Regions from separate parts of the Homo sapiens genome. Here regions 2, 3 and 4 are each reported to be linked to region 1. The links are microRNA targets in miRTarBase. Many come from high-throughput screens and were not tested one by one. Region 1 holds a microRNA gene; each other region holds the end of a gene's coding sequence.
The links. The annotated mature microRNA hsa-miR-5193 reads UCCUCCUCUACCUCAUCCCAGU and lies in region 1 at 3,411-3,432, shown strand. An mRNA with a match to its seed (bases 2 to 7 or 8) in the 3' UTR can be bound and repressed. Matches are read on the target gene's strand: a 7mer-m8 pairs with bases 2 to 8, a 7mer-A1 pairs with bases 2 to 7 and ends in A, and an 8mer does both.

Region 2: the mRNA of CTIF is a reported target of hsa-miR-5193. Seed matches in the 3' UTR shown: 7mer-m8 at 3,024-3,030, 7mer-A1 at 4,946-4,952, 7mer-m8 at 4,948-4,954 and 7mer-m8 at 5,004-5,010.
Region 3: miRTarBase lists WDR70 as a target of hsa-miR-5193. The part of its 3' UTR that is shown has no 7-base or 8-base seed match.
Region 4: the mRNA of TMCC2 is a reported target of hsa-miR-5193. Seed matches in the 3' UTR shown: 7mer-A1 at 5,912-5,918, 7mer-m8 at 5,807-5,813 and 7mer-m8 at 5,238-5,244.

The regions. Positions count from the first base shown.
Region 1 is chr3:49,801,289-49,809,596 of GRCh38, reverse strand. It overlaps MIR5193 (microRNA 5193), which reads left to right and starts at 3,352; the gene lies at 3,352-3,460. It overlaps INKA1 (inka box actin regulator 1), which reads right to left and starts at 6,336. Exons shown (of 2, transcript NM_203370.2): 1 at 6,154-6,336; 2 at 4,567-5,416. The coding sequence starts at 6,204. The coding sequence ends at 4,610. UBA7 (ubiquitin like modifier activating enzyme 7) reads left to right here. Exons shown (of 24, transcript NM_003335.3): 16 at 1-55; 17 at 133-207; 18 at 438-621; 19 at 1,129-1,211; 20 at 1,485-1,577; 21 at 1,670-1,861; 22 at 3,432-3,524; 23 at 3,600-3,700; 24 at 4,160-4,388. The coding sequence ends at 4,289. It also overlaps a transcript of CDHR4 not described here. RefSeq lists enhancers at 1,561-1,620, 1,771-1,820, 1,295-2,191, 2,821-3,100, 3,087-3,381 and 1 more and silencers at 6,060-6,499, 6,890-6,939.
Region 2 is chr18:48,856,645-48,864,952 of GRCh38, forward strand. It overlaps CTIF (cap binding complex dependent translation initiation factor), which reads left to right. Exons shown (of 12, transcript NM_014772.3): 11 at 944-997; 12 at 2,700-6,573. The coding sequence ends at 2,915. Among named protein-coding and RNA genes, the nearest start is that of CTIF-AS1, 19 kb to the left of the region's middle. RefSeq lists enhancers at 1,062-1,563, 5,724-6,275.
Region 3 is chr5:37,752,166-37,756,165 of GRCh38, reverse strand. It overlaps WDR70 (WD repeat domain 70), which reads right to left. Exons shown (of 18, transcript NM_018034.4): 18 at 2,731-3,680. The coding sequence ends at 3,593. Among named protein-coding and RNA genes, the nearest start is that of GDNF-AS1, 86 kb to the left of the region's middle.
Region 4 is chr1:205,270,077-205,278,384 of GRCh38, reverse strand. TMCC2 (transmembrane and coiled-coil domain family 2) reads right to left here. Exons shown (of 5, transcript NM_014858.4): 4 at 7,130-7,265; 5 at 5,042-6,572. The coding sequence ends at 6,261. Among named protein-coding and RNA genes, the nearest start is that of TMCC2-AS1, 37 kb to the right of the region's middle. RefSeq lists enhancers at 1,893-2,552, 3,161-3,743, 3,744-4,325, 6,528-6,672, a silencer at 4,570-4,864 and a cis regulatory region at 6,600.

The DNA of each region.
Region 1 (8,308 bases):
ACTCTGCTTTCATTATGGCATCAAACAGCTGCTGAGGCACTTCCCACCTAATAAAGTGTGTGGCTAGGGGTTGGGACGCTGGGGGCTCAGGGGGACCAGACTGAGCCCAGCAGCTTCTACTTACCTACCTAGGTGCTTGAGGATGGAACTCCCTTCTGGTCAGGTCCCAAACAGTGTCCCCAGCCCTTGGAGTTTGACACCAACCAAGTGAGTGGGATTCTGTAGGGAGCTCCAAGATAGAGATGTGGCCCCTCAGAGCAGAGGTAGGCATTTCTGCATTCTGCAGAGATGCACAGATGCCCAGAGAGAGCCATGCTTGTGCATATATGGGTGTCTACATGTGAGGCAAAGGCAGGCACTCAAACAGATCCACAAATGGACAGTGACCCCCACCCCATGCACCCATGCCTCTGTTCCTGCTCTTGGTCTGGCTGCAGGACACACACCTCCTCTACGTACTGGCAGCTGCCAACCTGTATGCCCAGATGCATGGGCTGCCTGGCTCACAGGACTGGACTGCACTCAGGGAGCTGCTGAAGCTGCTGCCACAGCCTGACCCCCAACAGATGGCCCCCATCTTTGCTAGTAATCTAGAGCTGGCTTCGGCTTCTGCTGAGTTTGGTGAGGCTCCTGGCCCTGGCCCCTCATGCTGTCTTTCAAAGGCCTGAACCTGTCCTGTCCTCAGCCTGTGCTGCAGAAGGAAGATAGGGCCTAGGGGATCTACAGCCAATTTGCTACCTCTCAGGCCTCCTAACCTCACTCCTCCATAGTTTCAGGCTTATCCTCTGGTCCCTCAGTAGGTCTTCTCCCTGCTGCCTACCCCACATCCCAGTTCTTGTGGCAGATTCTTGGCAAAATAAATAAGTAAATAAATAAAGTCCATTGGTTCCTGGGGAGTGTCTAGCTATGGCCTGCAGGTGAGGACAGGGTCACAGAGGTCATGAGCACACATGGGTGAAGACTGGGGCTTCTAGAGGGGAGATTGTAGCATTAATTAAGGGGGCTTCTTGATTTGATCAGGGAATAGTAAGTGACAGGCTTGGCAAAGACCAAGAATAGGCACAGGGCTCCAAGAAGAGTGCAGGAGACAGGGGCTAAGGACTGCCTCAACATCCCCTCCCCTGACAGGCCCTGAGCAGCAGAAGGAACTGAACAAAGCCCTGGAAGTCTGGAGTGTGGGCCCTCCCCTGAAGCCTCTGATGTTTGAGAAGGTGGGTGCCCAAGTGGCAGTGAGGAGTGGGGCTGGGGAGTTTGTGGAGAAAGGTCAGGAGCTAATAAGGTAGTTTTGGAGCCCCTTGGCCTGAATTCTCCCAGCAAGACCCTGGAAGCAGCTCACATTCCCTGAACCTCAGCCTGTCTGATCAAGAGGAGATGTGGGGCAACCCCCCGACAGAACTGTGTGGAGACTTGTGCAGTGACACGCAGTGGGCCACGGTGAGGGGCACAGCTGCAGTGTTAACACTACTTTGACTTGGGCCTTACAGGATGATGACAGCAACTTCCATGTGGACTTTGTGGTAGCGGCAGCTAGCCTGAGATGTCAGAACTACGGGATTCCACCGGTCAACCGTGCCCAGGTAACCCCACCCCTTGAGGCTTGGGCCTGGAGGTGGAGGGCAAACCCTGGCCCTACGCCTTGGGCCCAGACCAAATCTCTTGTCCTTGGCAGAGCAAGCGAATTGTGGGCCAGATTATCCCAGCCATTGCCACCACTACAGCAGCTGTGGCAGGCCTGTTGGGCCTGGAGCTGTATAAGGTGGTGAGTGGGCCACGGCCTCGTAGTGCCTTTCGCCACAGCTACCTACATCTGGCTGAAAACTACCTCATCCGCTATATGCCTTTTGCCCCAGCCATCCAGACGGTGAGCCCATGATACCCCACCCTTAGCCCTACTAGGCCTGGGTTTCCCCTGCACCTGCCCATACAGGCCCCAATCTAGCTGCCGGCTCTCACTGAAACTCAGACTGTGCAGAAGTCCTGAAGACTCCCTCCAGCCCTCTTCCTGCTATGAAGCCAGGCTGGGACCTGTCAGACACAGGAAGCAGCCGTCAGCCATCCCCACCCCCAATCCTCCAAAGCCCAGGATCTGGGGGAGCTGCAGCTTTAACTCATTAGTGGAGCCAGACATCCCCCACAGTCCCCTCCTTCCTTGGAGTACCCCTGAGGGGTAGGTAGTGGGGAGGGGACCAGGGCATCAGCCCCAGAAAGAGTCTAGCTTCCCCCTGCATGGTACGGGGGCCCTGGCCTACCTCCTACAAGCTGAGTTAAAAGGTAATAGGCTTGCCACTAGAGGTGTGGGGTCTGCAGCCCTGAGTGTATTTGTGTCACAGTTGTGAGTGCAACTGGGGTCTGGGCATCCCCGGAGTGTGGGTATGGAAGGAGCAAGTTTGCACATCTGTGCATCAGATGGGAGTGCAGGGCTCCCATCTTCCTGTGTCCTCAATGTGGGCATGCATGGAGATGCATGTGGGCACACATGTGTGTGTTCCTGGGCTTGTGGGCATTTGTGTTCCTGTGACTGCAGCGCTGTGAATGCCTCCAGCCTTGTGCCCAGGCTCTGCAGTTGGCATTTCCTTGGGGCAAGGATGAGGGTAGAAGGAATGCCCTCATGAGGGGAGAGGGCAGAGGTCATGGGCCAGCACTGGGTTTCTGCTGAGCAGCCTGGGGTCCCTCTGGACTAGCACACAGAGCCCCTTTGTGAGGCACCCTGCCTCTAACCAGCATACAGGCTGCCTTTGTCCACAGAGTGAAGCAGGTGAAGGAGAAGCCCCCATCTCACCTCTAGCCTAGTCTCAGCTTGACCCCAGTGTGTTTTCTCAGGGGCTGATAAGCACCCCCTGTCCTGGTCTCTAGATACCTGCCAGCCATCCTTCTGTCCTTAGCTCTAGGTCCCAGAACCCCAAGACTCTTGGAAGGAAGGAAGGGACAGGAGGAGGAAGCCTCTATGCATTGTATCCCTGCTGGGGTCTCTGGGACAGTGGGGCCCTGGTGGTCACTGTGCCCTTTGCCCCTGTGTCCCAATGAGTAGCCCAAGGCACTGGCAGTACATACAAGATTGGGGGACAGGATGTGCCCCCCAGCTCCCAGCCTTGTCTTTGAGGAACAAGCAGCTTTATCAGAGGCTGCAGGGGCCCTGCTCTGGGTTTCCTCAGGAAGCACCACCCCCTCATCCCCCACTCTCACAACTGGCCCATGTGATGGATCGTCTGTTTCCCTGTGCGGGCCCCATAGCCCCATTTCCTGTGCTGGCCCCGGCCTGGACGGGGAGGGGGCTGAGACTCTGGGCCCAGATCCCACCTCCCCCCCACCCCCCACCCCCTGGCTCCTGTTTCCTGCTAGTCCAGCTCTTCCCCTAGGAAAGGCTGCTGGTAACTGGGATGGGGGTTGGGGGGAGGTAAGAAGTCTCTGACTCCTCCTCTACCTCATCCCAGTTCCATCACCTGAAGTGGACCTCTTGGGACCGTCTGAAGGTACCAGCTGGGCAGCCTGAGAGGACCCTGGAGTCGCTGCTGGCTCATCTTCAGGTGTGCCCTGTTGCTACCCCAACCCCCAGGCTCAGCCCAGCCCGGCCCAGCTGGTGTCTGACCTTTCTCCTCTAGGAGCAGCACGGGTTGAGGGTGAGGATCCTGCTGCACGGCTCAGCCCTGCTCTATGCGGCCGGATGGTCACCTGAAAAGCAGGCCCAGCACCTGCCCCTCAGGTGAGCCCACTTGGGGCTTTAGACAGGCCCCACCAGTCCCTGGAGGCTGGGGCTAGGGACCACACTGCCTTTTGTCTTCCCAGCCCCATTCTGGGCCCCTCACACCTTCCCAAGCATTCTTTCCCCAAATGGAGCCAGCAAACAGGCTGGAGGTGGGGTGAGGGCCGAGAGCCTGAGGAGGAGTCTTCAGGAGCTGCCTATTTGGCCAGCCCCATGGGCTCCCCACATGCTGCACAGCCCCCCTTTCACAGCCCACTCCCAAGGGACCCATAGCTTCCTGCCTCCTGCTTGCCTCATCAGCTGCTCCTAAAATAGTTTCAGATGTTTCCTGTCTTGAGCAGCTCCTGCTCCTGGCTTGGGCTCCTGACGGCCTGCCAGCACCCTCTCTAGTCCATGCCAGGCTGCCTTCTGCTTGCCATGGCTCACCTCTCCAATCTCCCCTAAACCCACCCCTACCAGGGTGACAGAACTGGTTCAGCAGCTGACAGGCCAGGCACCTGCTCCTGGGCAGCGGGTGTTGGTGCTAGAGCTGAGCTGTGAGGGTGACGACGAGGACACTGCCTTCCCACCTCTGCACTATGAGCTGTGACAAGGCAGCCACCCTGTCACCTAGCTCAATGGAGCCCCGGATCCCAAGCCCTGCATTGTAAGCCCACAGTAGGCACTCAATAAATGCTTGTTAAAGGAAGGCATTGCAGAGAGGATGGACGATAGAAAACAGTGCACTAATGCACACGGGTGTGACATGGGCATGACAGGGACCTTCACACAGAGAAAAAAAGCTCTTCAGAAGATTTGTCTCCCTGGGCAGTGCCTCACAGGGCTGGGGCTGCCTCTTAGTGCCTCAGGGGTATGGAGCCAGGACAGTCTAGAAAAAAGGCTTTTATTGTCCCAGGCTGGAGGGCAGGGTCAGAGGTAGCTGACATCATTGCAGATGATGGGCTGGCGGCTACGACAGCTCATGAGAGCTGCAAAGCGTGAGACATCCGCAGGCAGTTCAGGTTCTGGGCGAGGTGGGCATGACAGCCGCTTTCCTGCCATAGCTGTCCGCCGAGCCCTGGCCAGCCGGCGCCGAAGCTGCTCAGAGAGGCCAAGCAGGAACTGAGGGGGCCGAGCACGGGCACGGTGCCCACCTCCGTCACCCCCTTCACTCCCTGTCTCAGGCAGCTCCATCCAGTTGTGCACCAAGTCAGCAAAGCAATTGTCCCCTAGTACCAGGGGCTGGCGACTGCGACCCCTGTTCAGTAGGGCTGCTGTCCAGTCCTCTGCTTCCAGTCCCTGCCAGTGCTCCAGGCAGGCGTCTGGGGTGGACTTGGGCCGTGGATGGTGGACAGGTGGTACACTGGCTACAGGGGCCCTGCTGGGCATGGGGAGGCCACTGACTGAGAGGCACTGCCTACGAAGGGGCTGTGCTGAGGGTGCTGGGCGCTGGGATACAGGCAGTTCTTCCTCTCGCCATGTGCTGCCTGACACCTCCGAGAAGCCAGAGTCCCAGTCCAGGGCATGCTCCCTGGGGCCTCCCAAGGCTGCATCCCTGTCTTCTGTCACCACTGCTTCCTCCTCCTCCTCTTCCTCCTCCTCCACACAGCAGACTGAGTCCTCTTCCAAGGCACCCGAGGCCCTAAGCTGGTGGCTGGGCTGCACATCTGGGCCAGTTTGGGAGGTTGGCTGCAGGGGACCAGGCATTGAGGGTGAGCCTGTGTCCCGACCACACAACTGAGGGGAAGAGAGGGCAGAAGTCGGAGAGGTATCACTTGTCACCAGGCCAGCCCAGAGAACAGAGGGTCCAGGAAGGTTAGATAGGCCTGCTGGCCTGGGCAGCAGGGTGTTAGTGAGCACAGGGCAGGCATAGGGGTGCTGGCACTCGAAGCTGGTGTGGTTCTCATCCACCGACCTGGTGGCAGTCTGGCAGGCTGCAGCATGCAGGGCCGGGCAAGTCGGCACCCGCCACCAGGGCGGGCGGGCAGGCAGGCAGGGTTGCGGGCCTGAACGGGGAAGTAGGTCCTGCCCAGGACTGGAGGGGCATCCCGTGCCTATTGGGGGATTCAGCTCCCAAAGCCCAAAGCGTCTTTCACAGAAAGAGCGCTTGCTAGGTGAGGGGTAGAGAAGGGAGGCATAGGCCAGCCTGAAGTAGGGGGCGTTCACAGCAGCGCCAGCACCTCGTTAGTCCCTTGCCGCCCCATGCCCCGCCCCCAAAGAAGTCCCCCTTCCACTCTCTCCTCCCGCGCCGTTCCAGCAGCACGGCCAGCTGGATGCTGTTATCTGATGCTCAGCTCAGTTCCCAACCGTCCGAAACCCGACGCGGGCCATCTGAGCCATATGCGCCACGCCGCCCCCACCCCGCCTCGGACCGGCACGCTGGAGCCACCCCGCACCCGTCTGTTGTTCCGGCCGGGCGGCAGCCTGGCATCCCGCACGCGTCCTCACTAACCACACCCGCTCCCGAGCCTCACCAGTTCCCAGCGGAGCTGGCTAAGGAAGCTGTCAAGCCGAGCGCTGTGCATGTCCATGCCAGGGCCCCCACCGAACCTACTAGCTCCTCTTGGAACCCCGGCGGAGCCGCGCGGAGAGGGCTGGGAGGGCCGGCCAGCGGCGCCCTCAGCCTCCGCCTGCCTGCGCGACTCCTCGCTCTCCGTAGCTCCCGCCGCCGCCGCCCCGACATCTGGCAGCCGCGCCCCGCCCCGGCCCCGCGGCCAAAGGGGGCGGGGCTAAAGCCCGGCGTCCCTCCCGACTCCGCCGCGGTTCTGGGTGGGAAGGGCGGGGTCATAACTGGAAGCCGGACGGGGCCGGTACGGGGACCCCCCGAGCCCCCAGACTGTTGAGTGGACCCTGCGTTTGCTGCGTGACGCAGGACAGGTCGCCTCCGTGCGGGGGCCTCATCCTCCCCGTTTGTTCAATGGTGAAATAGCGGTCCCTCTCACGGGGCGCCGTGCTGCGTCCGCACATAGGCAGAGCACCCCGGATGGTCGGACCCAGAGAGGTTGTGGACCCTCGGGGCCTGACCCACGGGACCCATTCGTGAGGCTGGCCTTGGCACTCCCTGAACGGGATGGAAGTGGGGTTCAGCCCGTCTGAGGACTCAAGAGAGGGCGGGACTTTGTGGCAGCGCACCGGCGGGGCCTCAGCCGCGTCCCAACCGAGCTAGACGGGACTGCCCTCTAGTGGGGAGTGCTTGGCTAGTCGCGAGTCCAGCGGCGACGCGCGACCGTCGGCATTCCCTTTGCCGGTACCAGGTGCAGACTGAGGGTCGGTGCTGAGGCTGCTCTATCAACACAGGCTAGGCTCAAGGGTAGTGTAGCTGCAGACAGACTGGACATACCAGCAACAGGAAAATACCAGGGAATGAGGGCCGTGGGCTAGCTTGGGGAAAGTCAGTCTCACAGGAGGTGACATCAAGATGCAATCAAGAAGAGGGGCATTCTGGCCGGGCGCGGTGGCTCACGCCTGTAATCCCAGCAGTTTGGGAGGCCGAGGCGGGCGGATCACGAGGTCAGGAGATCGAGACCATCCTGGCTAACATGGTGAAACCCCGTCTCTACTAAAAATACAAAAAAAATTAGCCGGGCGTGGTGGCGGGCGCCTGTAGTCCCAGCTACTCCTGAGGCTGAGGCAGGAGAATGGCGTGAACCCGGGAGGCGGAGCTTGCAGTGAGCGGAGATCGCGCCACTGCACTCCAGCCTGGGCGACAGAGTGAGACTCCGTCTCAAAAAAAAAAGAAAGGAAGAAGAAGCAGGAGGAGGAGAAGGAGAAGAAGGAGAAGGAGAAGAAGGAGAAGAAGAACATTCTAGGCAGAAGGAGCAGCCAGGGAAGAGACCCCGACGGACAGGAGCTGGACAGGGCCAAACATAAAGAAGGCCCAGGTGTCTGTGATTGGTGGTGGTGGCAGGAGGGAAAAGGTCAGCAAAACCAGGCTCTAACGGCCTTAGAGCAGAATGTGGGTTTTGTTCTTGGTGTGATGAGGAGCAATGGGGGCCTTTGAGCAGGAATGACCTGGGCTAGCCCTTGTTTAGATAATCCCAGCTGCTTTCAGAAAAGGATTCTGCAATAAGAGTGGAAGTCCCTGCCCTCATCCAGGCAACGAAGGGGAGGGCCTAGGCCTGGGCAGGGCAGGTGCACTGAAGGGGGTCACTTTGGGGTATGTTTTGGAACTAAAATCAAGTCTTGCTGATGCATGGATGTGGGCAGGAAAAGAGGCATCAAGCATGACTCCTACATTTCTGGCATTAACAGCTGGTTGGATGAAATTGCCATAAACTGATCTGGGAAAGACTGGAGAAGAGTGGGTTTGGAGAGGAAAATCCAATGATCATTTATGGACACGTAACCCTTGAGATGCCTGTTAGACATCCAAGAGGAGTTGCAGAGTCAGCTGCTAGGTGTATGACTCTGGACTTCAGGAGAGAGATCAGCACTGGAGCCTTGGATCTGGGAGGCATAGTGAGTGAATGGATGGTATGTAAGGCCATAGGCCTGGATAAGGTGGGGTGGGAGGAAATCAGTGTAGTCAGAGGGAGACAGCAATCGGGACTGTGCCCTGGGACATTCCATGAGGTGGAGGTAGGGGAGATATGAAGCAGAGCTATCAAAGAAGCTGAGCAGGAACAGCCA
Region 2 (8,308 bases), not on the chromosome of region 1:
GTCAATCACAAAAGGCCACATATTGTGTGATTCTATTTCTATAAAATGTCCAGCACGGGCAACTCCATAGAGACATAGAATCGGGGGGAGTTGCCAGAGGCTGGAGTGAGGAGGAACAGGGAATGGCTGCTAGTGGGTATGGGTTTGTATGGGGAGTGATGAAAATGTTCAGAACTTAAATAGTGGTGATGGTTGCACAATTCTGGGGATATCCTAAAAAGCACTGCATTATATACTTTAAAATGGTGGATTTTGTGTTATGTGAATGGTATCTCAATTTAAAAGAGACAGAGAGATTGAGAGAATGAGCCAGGCAAGTCGGGGGAAGCATGGACTGTAGCACGGCAGGACTGAGCGCTGAGCAGCCCAGCCATGGCCCTAGTTAGGAAACAGTTCCAGCCCCTGAGTAAGTCCACAGGTTTGTGGGTTTGAAAGTCTACAGCACTGGGCCAGTGGAGAAGAGGGCTTTGACTCCTGGACTTCCTCCTGTGGCCAGGGCCCAGGGGTGCCTGAGTCAATGGCTGAACCTCCTCACCCATAGAGGAGTTACCAATTATACGTCTCTAAGCTAATTTCATTTCCCTGAGGACTTCTGCTGACCAGTTGTTAACACTGGATGATCCCAGCGCACTCACTGCTGCAGGCTTTCTCTTCAGTGGCCTCTTGAATCACGGTGTTCAGACCTGGCCCAGGGGCTCCACATCGCACCATCACACTGACCTCCAGCTGCTCTAACCCTGTCGGAGAAATCACGGCCACCCGGCGCAACTGACTTTCTGCTCTCTGACTTTTGTGGGCTCTCACTCTAGCCTGAACCTTGGAGATGTTTGTTACAGGCCGCATCAGGGCTGGGGCTGCAGGTCGGCGGGGGCTGCAGGGAGCTACAGGGCCCAGTAGCCGGCATGTCTCCTTCAGTGGTGCTCTCTGCCCCTCTCTTCCACAGCTCTTGCAATCTCAGGATGTGAAGGAAGATGCTGTCCTTTGCTGCTCTATGGAGGTAAGCTTTGGGGCTTCGACATCCCCAACCTCAAAGCCGGTGCATCTCTCATGCCTTAACAGTTCTAGGGGCACGAGGGTTGTTGGAGGCATTTACAAGTCCAGGGGAAGGTAGGTGGATGGCTTCAGGAGTGGGCATGGACTTCTGCATCCAGAATTATCCACCCCAAGCCAGAGTGAACACTGATGGTGAGAGCAGCTCACCCCTGACTGAAGGGAGAGAGAAGTGATTCCCAGTGGCATTGCCTACTTCCCTGTCCCCCAAAGACCCCCTGCGCCCCAGCTCAGGCATGCCACACAAATGACTTAAGAAGTTCCTGATTACCTCTGCCCTCAAATATTTCCCTTTGCTTTGCTAATGCTTGGCAATGCAGTGCTGGCACAGCCCACCCGAAAGCACACCTCTTGGGAGGTGCCACTCCTGTCCCTAAGCTGTGGCCCCTGCTAATGGAGACTCTTCCTCTGGGCTCTCCCTTTAGCGCCTGGCTTTGGCCCAGTCCCTGGGCAGATCTCTGCCCTCTGCAGATGGTCCAGAGTCACTCAGAGTGGGATGCAGGCAGGAGAGGGGCTTCCAGACGAGGACCTGGGCCTGGCAGCTGTCATAAGCATACTCAGGTGGCTTCCGCCTGGCTGCAAAGGCCTCACTGAGGAGCTCAGAGGCCAGAAGCACTGGGAGCCAGATGGCAGTCTTGGGTCTGTGGGACTCAGTTTGTTTGTTGGCCTCCAGCTGGGCACCCTACAGGGGGCTTGGGATTAGGGGGGAATTAGGGAGAAGGAGAAAGCCTGGTCCTTGCCCTCAGGCAGCTTCCAGTCTGGTTAGGAATAGCTCTCAGAGAGTAGATAGAATAAGTGTAAGTACAGAGACATCCCTGAAGAGTCAGGGGAGAGAGGTCAGGAAGGGCTCAGGGGTTCAAGGGAGGCTTTGTGAAGAAGGCAGAGACTAGAAAAATGAATGGGACAAGGCTGGGGACCGAGACGGGGACTGAGATTCTATAGAGAGGGCCTGGGGGGCACTGGCCAGGGGTGTGCTGGTCCAGGAATAGGGGCTCCTTCCCAGTGGGCTTTTCAAGATTATCTAGGGCTCTCCTGACGGCCTCTGGCTGGCCTTCTTCCCCAGTTTGTATTTCTCTCCCCCACTTCCTGTCACAAGCATGAGCAGAGGTCACTTCTGGGGGCTGGGAGATGGGATCAGGATCAGGAGAAAAGGAGAGCGAGAGAAACAGGAGGCATCACCCCTGCTCTCAAGTTCCAATGGACACATGTAATAATGACTAAGCTCATTGCCAGAGAGACGCCCCAGCAAGTGAAAATGACCACAGGGCCCCCTGATCACCAAGGGGCACAGATCATGGAGCCATTTGAGGGTGCGGATGTAGTCAGGGAAGGCTTCCTGGAAGAGGGAGGCTCTTGGGTAAAAGGGACAAGAGGCATGTTCCTGGTGACAGCTCTTTCAGCCCTGGGCAGTAGGCAATATTCGGATCCCTCTGGATCCTGCTGGCAGATTGGTTGGTAAATGTGAGCTCTCACTCTTGGCTACTCCACCTTCCACTCTCCCTGTCCTCATTCCAGCTGTGGCACAGGGGTCTGGGCCTGTGTGTCCTTAAGACAACCCAGCTATTTCCTATCCCTGCCCACCTAATCAGGGTGGCCAGTGGGCCACTGTGGGACCCGAGGCCATCCTAACCCCACATCTCTGTCTGCAGCTGCAGAGTACAGGCCGGCTGCTGGAGGAACAGCTGCCTGAGATGATGACAGAGCTCCTGGCCAGCGCACGGGACAAGATGCTGTGCCCCTCGGAGTCCATGCTGACCCGGTCGCTGCTCCTAGAGGTCATCGAGCTCCACGCTAACAGCTGGAACCCTCTGACGCCCCCCATCACGCAGTACTACAACAGAACCATCCAGAAACTGACAGCCTGACAGCCAGGGGGCCTGGCAGGCGGCCCACGGGCAGCTGGGGCCCTGGTGCACAGGGCCAGATGGACAGGCGGGAGGACAGGGGTGGCCCTGGCGGGAGAAAGAAATGGGGAGGAGGGCAGGCAGAGTCGGTGGCCAGTCTGGAGCCAGACGGGGAAGGGAGCAAATCCCTGAGAGGAGTGCCCCCGCACAAGCCCCCCAGCCCGAGCATGCAAGCTCACACCAATAAGGGAAGCATGTTTCTTTTTCCTGGTGGCCCTGGCCCTCCCCTTCCTCACTCCCGCCTCTCCCCTCCCCATCAGACCCATCCCCCACGGAGCTTTGTGTGAGGGATCTCATCGCTGTGACTCCTCGGAGACCTTGGCAGCCTCGCACGCCGGGGCACCGCTTGGGTCAGAAAGGACCTCGGAAGGCTGAAAAAGTGGGTCGGAGACGGGCTCGCATTGTTCCCGCATGCTGTCAGCCGCAGTCGCCAACTGGCAGCAGGCGACGTGTAGCAGATGTCCGGGAGGACAAAGGCAGGCACGGTCCCCACCAGCCGCCCGTAATTGACGGCCTTTGTCAGCCATGGCAGAGCTGACGCTCCACCTCCCACCTCCAAGTCCTCCTCACTGCAGCCCCCACAGCCTCAGGCCTAGGGGGTCAGGCGCAGCGGGGGAGATGGAGTTTGCAGTTCCACTTGCACTCTTTTGTTTATTGTGTTTTATTTTTCAAAAGTCGGTTGCTTTGAAGTCTCTTTGGCCAATGAAAATGCCCGTGATGTGATCACACAGTCAGCACTGTTGAGGACCCCCGGATTAGTGGGAGATCAAACCCAGCTCCCCTCTAGAAGAAGGATTCGAGCCACAGACAGCTTGCCAGTAGCCAATTAGGGTAATTGGAAACTTCTGCCCCGGCGGGGGGTCCCCGCTGGAATCCTGTGTTCCTCGCCACTGGCTTCCAGCGCCTCTGTTTTCTCAAAGGGCTGATACTGTCACCACTGGGACCAAGTTAAACCTGGTCCTGGCCCCAGGGGCCTTGTGGCAAACAGGGCACAGAACGAGACTGGCAAATTAAAACCAAAATTCTAGATGGTGTCTTGCGCTCCACACGCAGGTCTTACTGGGGAAAAGGATGGGAGTGGGGGCTCCCCAGGACTCGATTTTAGCTAATGCGCTGTGTCACTGCCCCAGCTCGGACGTAGAAGCCCAGCCCTCCGTGAGCTCTTGGGAAAGGGGTGAATTCACTGGGTCATGGAAGGGACAGTCAGGTGACCAGCGGGGTCGCCAGATGAAGCTTCCCAGCCGGGAAACAAGACGGGGTTTCTTGGCAGGCCCTGGTCCTGGGGAGCAGGCCCTGTTGTTGGCTGGAGAGGAAGGTGTGGGGTGGAACAGGTGTCCACATAGCTCCATCTCTGGGGGCTGGAGCACACACTTTGATGAGCCCCCCCGGAAATGATGTCAGAGCCTAGCCGCTTCCTTATTTGCTCTTTTATTGAGGCCGGGCAGGCCCTGGGTCACTTTGGAGGCCCCTCTTGGTCCACACTGGACTGGCCGGGAGGTGATGGGCGGGGAAGGTTCTCGTGATTGATTGATTCTGAGTCTGAGAGTGGCGAGTGGGGAGAGGCTTCCCCAGTTCTCTCCAGCTTTCCCTGCAGCTGCAACCTGCCCTCTGGTCCCAGGTGTGGAGCCTTTGCCTGTCTCTAAAAAGAGCCTGTTGGCGACAAGGTGTAGGGGGCACAAGTTTACCTGAAACAGGTCAGTGGTCTCTCCCAAGAAGCGCACGCCACCTCTGGTCCCTGGCCCTGAACCCTGCCTTCTTCCTCCCTCCACGGTTTCTTCCCAGACTTTCTCAAGCTCCTCCTCACTGCCCTTCCTCCCCAGCCCAGCCTGGGAACACAGATGCCCCGCGGGTAGGAGGCCTCGAGGGAGGAGCCGGGCTGATGCGGGGCTGCTCAGGGCAGGCCCCAGGGCGAGCTTGCCATCGTGGCCAGGCAGCCTCCACCTGTGCTTCAGTGGCCCCTGCCCCCCTGAAGCATGTGGGGTTTGTCCGCTAGGAGGAGGCAAGGCCCCCGAAGAGAGGAGAGACCTGGGAGTGGGAGCTCAGGTCAGGGAGGAGGCAGGGGAGTGGGGTCTCCCAGACCCAACGGTGAGCTCAGAGCAAGCTTCACGCAGGACGCTCCGAAACACTGTGTGGAGGGGGCTGTGTTGTGGGCACCTTGGGGCCTGATTCTCCTTCCTCCGAACGGGCTCCTTGATGGCCTGGCCACAGGGGCAGCTCCCCATTGGCTGTTAGGACCAGAGTGTGAAGAAGAAGTGAAATATAAATATGTATACATATATAAATATATTTTTAATTACATGTCGTGTCACGGTGGCTCCAGACATACTGTTTGCCTAGTTTATTCCACTGCTTGAAAGCGCTTCCTAGCCAATCTGAACAACAACACTTTAAGCTGTTTTTCTAAATGCAGGTTGCTGCTCCTTTTTCAGATATGGAAGGAAAACGTTAAGACTATTTTTTTTTTAAAGAAACAACAGTCAAGCCTAAAATTTGAGACCCCGAGGCAGCTTCCCGAGGGAGACTGCTCAGACAGGAACTGCAGGACAGAAGTGGATGCCCCACAGACCCTGGCCCCCTCCCCAAGTCCATCCCCTCTCTGTGGCATGAGGAAGGCCGCGTCCGAGTTGACCTCTGAATGTATGTGATGAGAGGCAGAGCTGGATATTGCATTTCTAAGGCTTGCATTGCTTTCCCCTCGCCCGCGGTTCTTGGCGCATGGAAGAGGCGGTCCAGCCATCTGATGTTGATCCTGTCTCAGTCTCCCCACTGCCTGTCAGGATGAGTTAGTCATTGTTTTTCTCCGAGGCGGCCTGCTTGCCACAGCCCTGCTCCCCAAGGCCTGGTGGCTTTGCCGAAGCTCTGGGACCGCAGCCCCAGCGAGGCCCCCAACCTCACCCAGACGAGGCCAGGAGCCCCGCCACCCTCCACGGGATGTGCACCCTCAGACCCCATTCTCTCTGTTCGTCCTTCCTTGACCAGTCTGTAAACCTTCACTGTTTGGGGATCGTCCTGTCCATCCATGTAAATGTAAATGTTGGCCGAGTCGGTATTTATTCTGATTGATTTTTATTTTATTCTATTATTTTCTCCGAGGGATGAGGGTGGGGGGTGTGGGAAGGGTACCACAGATCAGGCCGGGGCAGCTGTAGGGGCGGGGGCCCAGACAGCCAGGCCGCCACCAGAGCAGCCCCATGGGGTGCCCCAGACGCGGGCCTCCAAGAAGCCAAGTCCCAGTCTGTTTTCTGGCATCAGACACCGGCCCGTGTTCCTTGTCAGACAGACAGACTCTCAGGCCTGCCTGGGGAGTCGTGTCCCTCAGCTGCAGGGCACTGTGTTGGGAAACCATTGGCTGGGCCTTTGAGGACACAGATCAGAAGAAAGAAAGACAACTTTCCTCTGCGCGGAACACTCACACGGAAGGGCTGGCCGCCTCCCTGAGCCGGCTGGGAGTGGACGACAGGACCTACCTCCCCAGAGCAAGGGCCTGGGGCTTCCCGCCAAAGCTGCCGCGGAACCCCGCTAGTGCGACCACCCTCCCTCCGTCGGTATGTCCTGCTTTCCAGCTGAACCCAAACTACAAGTGGGTTTAAAAAAATAAACACCACCACCAAAAACAAAATGCCCAGAGTCTGTGCTCTTTGTGTGTTCAGCAAAAGAAACCTTTTCCCCAAGCTCATGTGCCTCAGCTATACTAGCAGGGCCTCCAGGAGCTGGCCCAGGAGATGAGCTGAGGGGAAGATTCTTGCAAGAAGTTGGTCCAGGAGACCATGGGTGAAGGAGACTTACTTACATCCCCCAAAACTGGGAACTAACTATGACCTATCCAAAGTGACCTGGACCTGTCCAGGATCAAGCCAGTCCTGGACAAAATGGCTTTTGCACTAAAGGTTTGGTTTAACCAACCCCCCCCAAACCTACCCCTTCCCTGGAAATGTCACTGTGGCATTTGGCAATGAGTCATTTCAAGAGGGCTGAGATTTGGGCCCAGTGGCTTTCAAAAGTCAACAGCGAGTGGCTGTCCAGTCCCAGTTGGTCAAATGAGTCTTTCATCAACGAGTCCCCAAAGGGCCCAGTGATTTCTTTTCCTGTGATGACATGTCTCTTGTTTTGCACAATCTTGTCTATGGCAAGGCACTGGGGACACTGTTTCCTGGTAACGCTCCCCTTTCCTTGGGGATTCTTTCTGGCTAGAACTTGCTGGTCCTTCAGCTCCTTGCAGGGGTCGCACCAGAGCACCAACTCCCTTCCTCCTTCCCTGGCCTGGCTACAATGGCGGCCAGGGCCTCCCAGGAGCCGGGTGAAGGCATGTTGAGATTCGGGCCTTGCCCTTCACTGAGTCACACACCCACCATGACACTGACAGGGACAGCCAGAAGTCCACAGACTGGGTAGAGAGAGAGAACATTTTAATTAAACAACTGAGGTATGTGGCGGGCCAATTTTTTTTTTTTTTTTTTTTTTTTTTTTTTTGAGATGATGATGGACTCTCGCTCTGTCACTCAGCCTGGAGTGCAATGGCACGATCTCAGCTCATTGCAACCTCTGCTTCCCAGGTTCAAGCAATTTTCCTGCCTCAGCCTCCCAAGTAGCTGGGATTACAGGCACACACCACCACGCCTGGCTAATTTTTTTTGTATTTTAGTAGAGGTGGGGTTTCACCATGTTGCCCAGGCCGGTCTTGAACTCCTGAGCTCAGGCAATCTGCCTGCCTTGGCCTCCGAAAGTGCTGGGATTACAGGCATGAACCACCGCTTCCAGTCCTAATTTTTGTATTTTTAGTAGAGACAAGTTTTCGCCATGTTGGCCAGGCTAGTCTCAAACTCCTGACCTCAAGTGATCCACCCACCTCGGCCTCCCAGGGTGTTGGGATTACAGGCGTGAGCCACCGTGCCAGGCCCAAATTTATTTTTATAAAAATGCAAAGCAGTAGAAGCAGACATTGGAGGTCAAGATCAAAGGTAGGGCGACGATGAGGAACAGAGAGCCTTATCACACCCTGCAAAAGAGAAAGGAGATTTTCCTGGATGGGCTAGTCCTGCTTCCAGAAGGCCCTAAGTTACTGAATACTACGAGACACAGCATCGAAATAATACATGTTTCAATCCTGATTTCACCACCATCTTTCTGCTTGTAGGCATTCTCTTGTCATTTTAGAGTGTTTGTTTACATTTGTACTGGGATGCTCACAGCGTAACTTATAAGGGCCTTTTAAGGACCAAGGCAAAGATGATGATAGCAGAAAAATAAAGGGTTGAGCAGTTGAAATGGGAAAGAAGTGGTCCTGCCTTACTGATCTCCCTCATTCCTGCAGTTCCGCAGCGGCTTCCTTACACGGTCTCAGCTGGTCCCGTGAA
Region 3 (4,000 bases), not on the chromosome of region 1:
TGTGTGTGTGAATGTGTGAGAGTTATGTCCTGGTTTTCAAGTATGAATGGCCCAATTTTAGACAGTTATCCTGGGAGATGAAGGAATTACTAGCTGTACCCAGTATCCTCGAATTGAGTCTAATTTATGGATTCTCTCCACAGAAAAATGTACGAGTATAAGCAAAGCATGCTGCATAAAATTTGAGGGAGTTCACAGACATCCCGCCTAGGTTAAGAATCCCCATGCTAGACATCTCTCAGATCTTTGGTAAGTCAGGGTCACATGACCTTCCCAGTATCAAGTCCAACAGGACAGGAGGCAAGTACCTGAGGATGTCATGGTGGCTTAGAACTTGCTGTGCCCTGCCAGGAATAGCACAGATAATCCTGCCTCCTCCTTGAGCCATCACAGTTAGCTGTGAATAAATCCCCACAGAGAAGAGGTAAAGCAGCCTGGATGCAGACCAACCTTCAGTACTAACGATCCTCCTTTCCATCTGCGAGGCAGAAGCACTTCTCACACCTCATTCTTTTCCCATCCATTCTTCATCCTTGCCTGTTTCATTCCCTCCCTCTGCCAAAGATTGAATACGCCTCTTTTTAAACCCTTTCTCAGGGCTAGGGTCTAGGAATACAAATGTGAATAGAACATGGCTCCTCTAATTTATTAAACAAACTTACTGAATATTTACTGAACCCAATGCTCTTTAGTTTTTACAATCTACACCCTAGTGAGGAAACATGCATGTACACACATGGGCACACACCACTGGCCCACAAGCCATTCATGTGTATACAATCATAACGCAACATAAAAGGAGGCTATAATTGAGAGATATGTAAGCAACTATCGAAGCGGAGACTGTCTGCCTGGGAAGGTGAAATTGATTCCTGTTTCCAAAATCAAATAGGAATTTTCCAAGCAGACAAGGGTGGAAGAGGGGACAACATGTGCAAAGCCATTCAGGTGCCAAAGAACATAGTAGTGGCTGAGCCTCAGAAGCATGTGCCAGATCAGCAGGAGTTACAGCATGAAACACAGGGAAAGGCCGAATCCTGGATGTCCTCAATTGCCACATAAACGCATGAGTACTGACATAGAGCTTCTGGAAGGCTCTAGGCAAAAGAATGAAATGACAGATTTTGACTTTAGAAGGCCAACTCTGATGACAGAATGAAAGATGGGTTAGATGAGGACCTAATGAAAAACAGGAAGATCATTTGGGCAGGAGGCTCCTGAGTGGTGCTGGTGAAGGCTAAAAGAGGGTCTAAATTCTAGAGGGGTGGTAGGGAAAGAGAGGAAGGGCAAATATGAGAGATTCAGAAGACAGCATGGGAAGAAACTGGCAAATAATTAAATGGGTGGGAGTGGGGGGTGAGGGAGGAGTCATTAGGATGACTGCCAGTTCCTTCGAGCAACTAGAAATGAAGGCGACCAAATACAAGGTTGCATGGGGGAAGATAACGAGGCCTGAGGGACATGGGGAGTGTGAGGGACTGTAAGATAAATAACTGTTGATGCCCACTCTGGTGACAGGACTGCAGGTCAAATGAACACACACTATTTGTCCATTCCTGGTTCTAAACTCCTCCCTTACCAAATTTGAAATTGAAATCCGTATGTGCATGTTGCCAATCTTCTGTGGAAAAAATAATTCTTTATAAAACTCTCTACAGTGAGACAGATCCTCTTAAATATGAAAAGGCCCACTTGTGTTGTGGGTAACGATGAGAAAATCATCTTCGTGCGAAATTTGCCTTTCTCTTCCCTTACATCATAGCTGACTCCGCCAAGACCACTATGATCAAGTTTTTATTCCTCCTCCAACCCTCCACTGCAACTTTTGGCTGTACAAGACGAATACTTCCATATGGTGCAATGTTTATGTTAAGATGGGGGAAAATGTGAGATGCTTTCAGTAAATTTTATTCAAGAAGTAATAAATTTATACATTCTAAGCAGCTGGAACAAAATATTGGTCTGTAATTGATTCTGAATGAAGTGTTTTTCAAAAGGAACAGAAAACTTGGGGCTATTTGTTAATTACTGATGTTTAGAGATCTTGGGTGCTGTCATGCAGCCCTCTCTGGCTGTGACCTCAGACATATGATTTGACATGTTGAATCTCTTTTGCCTCATCTGGAAAATGGGTTTAGCAATTTTACCTACTCATAGGGTTTTTGTGAGGATTAAATCAGCTAACACAAGTAAAGGGCTTGGGATAGTACTCATTATGTAGCAGACACTCAGCAAATGTTAGTTCTTTTCTTTTTACCTATTACCTATAGTCTGAGTCACAAGAGAAGGGGAATAGGATGAGGATGGGGGTAGGAAGGAAGGACTGAGAAAGTGTATGAGAATGAAGTTTTAAGGATTTATCTATAAAAGAATGCCCACTGCCACCTCAGAATCTGTAGAGACAAGGGAGCTGTGTGAGTACAAGTGATTCTTTAAAAATATTTTTTGGGAAGCAGGTGTGGGTACGTGAAGCCTGTAAAACCAGGAGTTTTCTGATATACTTTTGGGATCATCATGCATTTTTATAATTATTGAAATCACTAGAACAAATGAGAGCAGGAGGGGAGAAGGCAAGTCCTAAAAAACCTGTCTAGAGGGGACTATTTAACATGCAAAAACTACCCCATGTCTGTGTGAAACCAATGCACAGAATTTATTCTATTGATGCATTATTATTTTGGACAAACTGCCAACTTTTGTTTTAGTTTTTTAGTCACTAAAGCACAATGATTTTTTAGAATAATTTTTAATGTCTTCTGTTTAGTCTTTACATTTACAAAGCAATTCTATACCTTTCTAATTTAATACTGATAAAAACCAAGCAAAGTAAATATTAGCCCTATTTTAAAATAGCAAATATTTGGTATACATTTACTGTGTTCCAGGTACTGTACTAAATGCTCTGTGAGGCATGTCCCATTTAATTCTTCTGACGAACCTGCAAAGTACGTACTATTTCATCATCTGAGGCTAGAAAAGAAAAGTTAAATAACTCTCTTAAGATGACCCAGAAGTAAAGAGCAAAGCCAGGACTTGAATCCACATGAGTCTGACTTCAAAGCCCACTCCTAACTCTTAACCACTGTATTCTGCTATTGAAGGATAATGAGATAATGCTCTTTCCCAGTATGGCAATGTATTTGGTTTGAACTCAGCCTAATTAATTACAGTCATGTAAACAACTGTTGTGAAATTATACAGAAACATTAAACTTTTTGATCTCTATTTCTATATTATGTTCCTAGAATTGCTAGAGACAGATGCACATCTTAATGTACATTTTCCTCTCTAAGGTTATGAGAATCTGGACAAGACCAATAATTGTTGAATAAAGTTTCCAAATACCTAAAGTACTTGGTAATAGACTAAGAATCTGTTTCTTGTTTATCTGTAATCAGTTTAATAGTTGCAGGTAAGAAAATTTAAGCACAATTTTAGTGAAGCCTAGCCACCAAACTTTTGACCAGTTCAATAATGCAAAGGACAAAACCTGTTCATAAAAATGAATTTTTAATTTCATGAGCATAAAAAAAAAACCCAAACCTGTCCCATACCCCTCCCACTCATGCAAACAGCTCTCAAATGAGATTCTTCAAATTTTACGTTTTTTCCATTCTGGCTCATTCTTTGCTTCCTCATCATCAGATTCAACTTGGGCAAACATGGTTTTGGGCTGAGTCCTAAAAGAAAAGTTAAAGAAGAGAAGGAAAAATTTAGTCAGAAAGTATTTGTTACATTAGATTTTGCTTCCTTCATCAAGTGGGAGCAAATGTGGGGAATAAATTACAACTCAATTATTAAATATAAATCATTAAACTTCTGGCAAAGAAAAAGATAATGGAAATTTAATTATGTTCAGGAAAAGAGCAAAAGATTCTTTTAAAGATTTACCCTCTGTGGCAGACTGTACATACACACTGTTCTTTCCTTAAATAAAATGAAAATGCATCAAATTCAGTGGAACTTCACCCATCCTAACCACCCTCCACCTGAAACTCTG
Region 4 (8,308 bases), not on the chromosome of region 1:
TAATTGAACCTAAAGCTGGGTGGTTTGGGGGTCACAAACCTGGACTCCATGGCTGCCAAACCATGATAAGAGCTTCAAGACCAACAGAGGAGAAAATGAAGAAGAAGGAAGGGAACCCCTCCTTGGCCTTTTCCTTCTCAGAAGTCGGAATCCCATCACTCAGGTCTTCCCACCCTTGGCCTGGCCAGGCCAGGCCACACTTGGCTGAGAAGCTCGAGAGGAGGATGCCGGTCAGAGAGACATCAGGTCTGTGTTGGTGACTTGTCTCTTGCATGAGTTCATTTAATGACCAGTTTCATGGGAAATCCTCTCTTCTCCATCTCCACGCTCAGTATGGGTGACTGGGGCTGACCCCAACTAGAAAAAGGACAGAGGGACCCCAGTTAAGTAATAGCTGGAGACAGCGCCAGGTAGGAGTGGATGGTTTCTTAACTAGGGTGGTACGGAGAGGACTCACTCTTCCTACAGGAGAGCAAAGAACAGAGCCCCAGACCAGCCAGAGAAACACTCAGATCTTTCTAAAGTGTTTACTTGAGACTTATCTTCAGGGAGCTGAGATCACAGCAAGAATAACCAAAGTGGCCGGGCGCAGTGGCTCATGCCTGTAATCCCAGCACTTTGGGAGGCTGAGGCAGGTGGATCACCTGAGGTCACGAGTTCGAGACCAGCCTGGACAATATGGTAAAACCCAGTCTCTACTAAAAATACAAAAATGAGGCTGGGTGCAGTGGCTCACACCTGTAATCCCAGCACTTTGGGAGGCTGAGGTGGGCAGATCACCTGAGGTTGGGAGTTCGAGACCAACCTGACCAACATGGAGAAACCCCATTTCTACTAAAAATACCAAATTAGTATTACAGGCATGGTGGCGCATGCCTGTAATCCCAGCTACTTGGGAGGCTGAGGCAGGAGAATCACTTGAACCTGGGAGGCGGAGGTTACGGTGAGCCAAGATCATTCCATTTCACTCCAGCTTGGGCAACAAGAGCAAAACTCCGTCTCAAAAAAACAAAACAAACAAACAAACAAAAAACAAATTAGCTGGGCATGGTAGCACACACCTGTAGTCCCAGCTGCTCAGGAGGCTGAGGCAGGAGAATAGCTTGAACCCAGGAGGTGGAGGTTGCAGTGAGCCAAGATCGTGCCACTGCCCTCCAGCTTGGGCGACAGAGCAAGACTTTGTCTCAAAAAAAAAAAAAAAAAATCAAAGTAAGGCAACAAGAGAGGGATAAAAGACTACAAATAGGGTACAGTGCACACTGCTTGGGTGATGGGTGCACCAAAATCTCACAAATCCCCACTAAAGAACTTACTCATGTAACCAAACACCACCTGTTCCCCAATAACCTATGGAAAAAAAATTATAACAACTACTTAATGCCAGATACATGCTGAGAAAATTAAACTGAAATAATTTGTTTCACTTAAAAACAAAACAAAACAAAAAAACACAGTAAGGGCAACAAGAGAACCTTCAGCTGAGGCTGGCAGGGCGCCGAGACTGGGCACCCAGACCTCTCAGGATCACCTCTGGGGCTTTTGGAATCAGAGCCAGCTTAGTGGATGGCTGCCTGGAGGCAGGCGCATGGCTGAGGTGGCACCGCTGGGCCCAGGATGCTTCATCCGGACAGTCGAGCCTTGGGGTATGGGGGGACCAAGGCGGGAGTGCTCTCCTGGGAGGCCCTGTGTCTGGCGGGCATCGCTGCTGTCACCACCCCGACTGCTCTTCTGGCTGAGTGACTCAGGACCTGCCAGCAGGCCCAAATGTGCTGGGACAAGTCTCAGCCTCCCCTCCTTCCCCACATGCCTCCCCGCAGCCTAGTGGGGACCAAGCTTCCTCCTTCCATCTGCATCTGGAGTTTGGCTGCAAGCCGTCAGGCCCATGGGTCACTGCTGGCTGCTTTCCCAAGCCCTGCCCAGCCCTGTCCCTGGGCAGATCAAAGCCCTCCCTGGGGGCCCCAGATGGCTGGCAGCATTCTAACAGGTCATTCCCCTAGAGTGAGATCCTGGGGTGTCATGGGGCAGGCACTCATAGCTGACACCTACGAGCCTCACCGGTGTCCTAACAGTTGGGCAGCACGGATATGATTATCCCCATGTTTCAGCTGGGGAAACTGAGGCCCACAACCTCCACAGTCTCAACTCAAAAGCAGGCATCTTGATTCCTGCTCTCCTTCCTAGACCCCACACCCAGGACCATGGGCTGGAGGCGGGAGGGACCCACAGACTGATACACTTGTGGAGCTGGGGTGTTGGCAGCCATCTTGGGTCAAATAGGCTGAATCCAGTCCTCTCTCAAGCTGGGGCTTGGCCTCTTGGGACTGGACCAGCTTTGTCTACCAGACCGAGGGGAGAGGCTGCTGGGAATAAGCAGGCTCTGGGTTCCCAGGGAAGAGGAACCCTAAGGACCTCTATTAGGTTTTCCAGAATCAGAGGCTGAGGCTCACTTAGCCACCCTTGGCCTTGTATGTTCCTGTGGGGTCGGCCTTAGACTTCCCTGAAGAGTTCTTCTGCATCTTAATATCTTACAGGCTCAGGAAAGAGGAGCAGTAATAAGTCCAGTCTCGGGTTAATCCATCATATTCTAGGCCTTGTGCTTAAGTCTTGACCTGCAGAATGTCAAGTCTCCTGCACCCAAGCCTGTGAGCCAGTGCCATGTCATCTCCATTCCTCCTGGAAGATGAGGAGATTGGGCTGAGAGCAGCTGGAACCCTGTCCAAGGTGAGTGGCAGCACTGGGGTTTGAGCCTAGGTCTGCTGGCTCCTTAATATTGGGATCCAGACTTGACTTAAGGGCCCTGGCTTTGAAAGGGAAATTGAACCTGCCATGAAGATCCCTCCAGGTGCCCAGGCTGCAGCTCCCCTCCTCTCCCACCCTGTGGCCCCAAGTCTTTCCTCCTCCCTTCCCTCCCTCCATAGCTCAGAACCACTCCAGAGTAACCTGTGCTGGCAGGGGTTAAGTCACCTCCTGCTGGCCTGTGCTGTCTGCCTGCTTTGCTGTTTGCCAGGGCTGCACCTGTTGTAGCCCTACAGTTTTGATGAGGTTGGCAGGGAGTGCCAGCTCTGCACGGGCATGGTAAACATGCCACCTGCCTGCTCAGTGCTGCTGGAGCAGTAACGTGCCAACTTCAACATGAATTCTTAGCTACTCCCTCTGTAGTGGACCCAGGCTGAGGGGAGCATACCAGCCTGGCTGAGACCTCCGGACCCTCAGGTGAGGGGCTGGGACCTGCATGACAGATGCTCTGGGAAGGACCTGCCTGTTGGCCCTGCATTCTGAAGAACGGTCCCCAGCAAAGGAGGCCAGGTTGAAGTGGGGGCAATGCACTCCCTTTTTTCCTTCTTTTTTTTTGTTTTTTTATTTGAGACAGAGTTTCACTCTTGTCGCCCAGGCTGGAGTGCAATGGCACACTCTTGGCTCACTGCAACCTCCGCCTCCCAGGTTCAAGTGATTCTCCTGCCTCAGCATCCCAAGTAGCTGGGATTATAGGCATGTGCCACCACGCCCGGCTAATTTTGTATTTTAAGTAGAGATGGGGTTTCACCATGTTGGTCAGGCTGGTCTCGAACTTCTGACCTCCGGTGATCCACCCACCTTGGCCTCCCAAAGTGTTGGGATTACAGGCGTAAGCCATCATGCCGGGCCGCACCCCCTTTTTTCTAAAGGGCGAGAAGGCTCAAACACAAACAAGGAAGCATCAGTGACCATCAGAGTCCCAGACAGGCAGGGCTTTATTAGACACGTTGTCATGATAAGGCAAACACAGGCTGGTGTTCTGTCCTTTTTGCAGATGACCCTGTGTAGCTGGGGCTGGTCTTCCCCCACCTCCTCTGTTCGCTGTCAGTCTCAGGATCAGCTGAGCATGGCCGCCACCCTCCCTCCCTTTTTCCTCCTCCCTTTCAGTGTGGGCTGTTGTTGGCAGTGACATTTAATTCAGGGAAGGCACCTGACCTTGGGGAGGAATGTGGGAAATGTCTGCAGCCTGGGGCAGCCACCCCCCACCTGGGGCCCAGGAATGTGGGCTCTAGGACACCTGTGGCCCCCAAGGGAGGTGAGTGTAGGGTCCAGGAATGACACTGTTGGAAGGCCCCGGCAAGGTCACCTAGTGAAACTCTTACATTGTGCAGAGGGTGAGGATGAGCCACCAATGCCACCCCCCGTGGCACCAGCACAGCCTTCTCTCCAATCTGGTGACAGCACTGTCTCTGACTCTTGTTGTCTCCTCAAGCCTGAGGCCACAAGTACAGCGGCAACTTCTGATTTGTCAGACCCACAGAACTGCAGAATGTCCAAGCCCTTCGAAGTGAGCTGCTGCACATCCTCTACCGCTGATGTGGAGACTGAGGTGCAGAGAGATGTGAGTTGGCTGCCATCTACTCACTATGGGCCAGGACCCAGGTCTCTGGGGTGGGTGCATTTCCCACCATCCCTCCTGTTCCAGATGCTGGAAGTCAGCATCTTTTCATCCCAGCAGGGAGATTCAGGTGGCCTCTCCTAAACCCCCACAGGGTTACTGCTGGGAGTGCAGTGCCATCTAGGGTGCCCATCTGTGTGAACTGCCGGGAGTGGGTGCTGCAGCCACAGAGGGCCTGGTCACTACACTCAAGCCCATGCTCCAGCACCTGGAGAGCAGGTGCTCTGTGCTCTGGCTGACGGCTCTGAGAAAACCAAGCTAACTCCAGCAGCTGCCTTCTTTGGGGCTGCACCGGGAGAAAGTGTTAGCGTAAGGACTCTGCTGCCCTCTCGTGGCCTCACTTGGGTATGGCTGCTGCCATTCAGGCCGCTGGTGGCTCACCTGCTCCGAGCTATGGAAATCTCTCTCCTAATTGCCTTTGCCTGGACTCTAAGAGGCCTGGATGGGGTGGATATCATCCCTTCTATCATACCGCTTAGGCCATGCCTTGTTCCTTGTCGGATTCTGGAGGAAGAGGGCCTCAGGTCAACAGGAGAGGCCTAGCCTGTGTTACCCAGAATGCTTGGGTGTGGGGAGAGACGTGGTGGTTCCCACAGACACAACCTAATCAACCAACACCAGACAGGATGGTTTGAAAATTTAGAGGATATTTATTTCTCAGGAAGGTGCACAACAGCTGGCAGGCACTGCTTTCCCTGCTCTAGGGGATTCCTCTCTCCTTTTCCAAGAAATCCCCTCTCTTCTTAGAAGTGCCCATGGGAGGCTGGGATGTGAAAAGAAACCATACACAACACTCCAGAGCCTTAAAAAAATAAAGCAACAACCTCCTCCACACGAATACACTTACAAAATAAATAGACGGATAAAAGAGAGGCCACGTGCCTCCCATCCCGGCTGTAGGGCTGCTTGGGGATAGTGGGGCTGGGTGGCTCGGTCCCACTTCTCCCAGCCAGGATGATCCAAAGGCTAAATGGAATGGAAGGGCCCTGGCTTCAGAGAGAGGATGGGGCAGGACCTCTCCTGGTACTCAGCAGGGAAGACACTGGGGGCACGGGTAGGGAACAAAGGAACAAATAAATAAATAAATAGAACCCAACAGCACTCTCAGAGGCCTAAGGGCTTAGGGTGAGGCTCAGGGGGGCCCTGGGGCCTGTTTCCCTGAAAATAACAGATCCAGTACAGGCAGAAAGAACAGAAGGGAAAACACAGGCCACACCCACCTGGCCTGCAGAGCCCAGCCCCAGAAGGAGGCCTCAAATCAGCTCTACAGGGAGGAGGGGTGGGGTGGGGATGCTGAGCTCCACACTAGCTGCTCTGAGCCTGCTCTCTGGCCCTGGAGGTGCCCGAAGGCTAGGGACCCTCCCATCCCTGTGTTCTCTGCGGCCAGCAGAGCCTCCTCCCTCACTCTCCAGCCTTCATCCTCACCATCTCCACCAGAGAAAACCGTAGCTATCTCCGAGGTGGGCTCTTTCCTAGGAAAGTTGAGGCAGAGCCCTCTCCTCCTATTCTTAATGGTCTTCCTGACTTGGGGCATCCTGAGGGTCAGCTGGGAGAAGTCCTTGTGTAACTATAAATAATCAAAACAATCCAACCCCATGTCCACCTCTGCTCCACTTGGCCACAGGTGCCCGCACTATCTCCAGGTAGGGCTGCATTCTAAGCTCCCTTCAGGCCAACAGGGAGAAGGTGTCAGACAGAAGCAAGTACAGAGAAGGGGGCAGGAGCTGCTGGAATGGACAGTTTGGGCAGGAGGCCAAACTGGACACACAAAGAAGTCCAAGGGTCCCTCCTGGAGAAGTGTGGCCAGCTGGGGGCCAGAGAGCACAGGGTTGGTGTGGCTGGCCACTCAGCTGGGCAGCAACACGTGCTCCAGGAGGTAGGTGAGGGAGTCCCAGTGCTTCCAGAGGAGGAACAGGACGAGGACCAGGAGGGTGGTGCTGGTGATGCGCAGGCGTGTCTTCATGAGGGGCGTGATGAAGTTGGCGATGGTGGACACGAACACCAGCAGCACGGCCATGAGCGCCAGGATCACGTTGATGAACTTGCCCAGCAGCGCCCGCGCGTTGGCATTCTCCACGCCCTCCAGCTGTACCACCTGCTGCTGTTGCTGCTGCAGCTCCAGCTTGGTGACCCGGGTCAGGCAGGACTCCACGGCCTCCTGCAGGGGCAGAGGGGCTGGCATGTGTGCGCTCAGGATGGGCAGGACCCCTAGGCTGAAAACCTACCTACCCCACTGAGAAGGTGCCTATAACGAAGTCTCCTCTCCAAAGGCCAGGAGGAGTGGAGGTTGACCAGCTGCAACTGGGGTCAGAGACCTTTAAGGATGACTCTTTGGGGAGGATGCTAGGAAATGAGAGTCTTGATTACTAGGGAAGGAAAAGAGCTGGCCCAATCCCAGCTGGCTCCCTCTTGAGGCAGGCTGGAGCCTGGAAACTCCAAATACTCATTTGCGAAGCTGCCATCAAAGAGGTGGGGGGCATGGTGGCCTCTGCCCTGTGGGCTTGCCTCTGCACAGTGCACGCTGTCAGCCTCAGGCCTGTCTTGCTCACTCCACTCCGCTCCCGCTACGCTGCCCTCTTCATCCATGTGCCTATCGGCCCCGGCCAACAGGCCAGCCTGTGTCTATCATGCCCCACGTGACAAGAACCCTAACCCTCTGGCTGCTGCCAGCTCTACCAGCACATCTGGGGCCTCCCAAGGTTGCCCTGGCCATACCTGGATGTCCCGTGCCCTCTCATAGGACTGGTAGGCCACCTTCTCCTCCATGCTGGCCAGCTCCTGCTTCAGGTTCGTCATCTCGTTCTGATGAAGCTCAGTCAGGTCGTTGAGCTGCTCCTCCAGCCGCTCGTACCTGGCGGAGGGAGAGAGAGTGACACCAGTCCTGGCTCCCCGAGCTTCCACTCTCTCCCACAGTTGATTCATTCATTCTCTCAATAAACAATGACTCAGCCCATCCCCCGTGTCCAGCTCTGCTCTGTTCTAATTTTAACAGCAACAACAATAGAAGCTACTATTTACACAGCACTTCTTAGGTGTAGGCACTGTGCTAAGCATTTTACCTACATGACCTCATAGGATCCTCCCCACAATCCCATGAGATAGGTGCCAGTGTCATCTCCATTTTACAGAGGAGAAGACTGAGGCGTGGAGGCTGAGGAGCCTGCCTAGGATCACGCAGCTCATGAATGGAGGAGTTAAGGATTGGCTGACTTCAACCTGGGCTCTTAAGCCCTAGGCTCAGATGCTCTCTGGGTACCAGGGACACATGGGTGTAGAGGACACAATCCCGGCTCTGAAGGCACAAAATAGCGTAAGATGACTGTTATGTGAGGAGTGGTTAGCTTTTAGGTGGGGCTCCCCTTCAATTTTCCAAGCCTTCTTTATATATATGGAGAAGAAAAAGAGAAAGTGCTAGCTAAGGAAAAGATCCCCCCACAAGCCCAGGGAGCGAGCGGCAAGTGCTGCAGAGGCACAGAGCCAAGGGCAGAAAAGGGCAGCACAGGACCGGAGGGAGACACAGAAGGAGAGGCCGAGAGATGTCAGCTCTGTTCCAGGCTGGCCCCAGGAGCTCCGACTGGAGGTTCATGTTTTGGAAGCTATACATCCATTCACATGCTTCGACTTTACAGGTCTGGACTCATTGTATCTTTATGACCCTATGAAGAAGGAATTAATGTCATCCCTGAATTGAGGTCAGGAGATCGAGACCAGCCTGGCCAACATGGTGAAACGCTGTCGCTACTAAAAATACAAAAAATTAGCGGGGTGTAGTGGTGCGTGCCTGTAATCCCAGCTACTCAGGAGGCCGAGGCAGGAGAATCGCTTGAACCCAGGAGGCAGAGGTTACAGTGAGCTGAGATCGTGCCACTGCACTCCAGCCTGGGCGACAGAGAG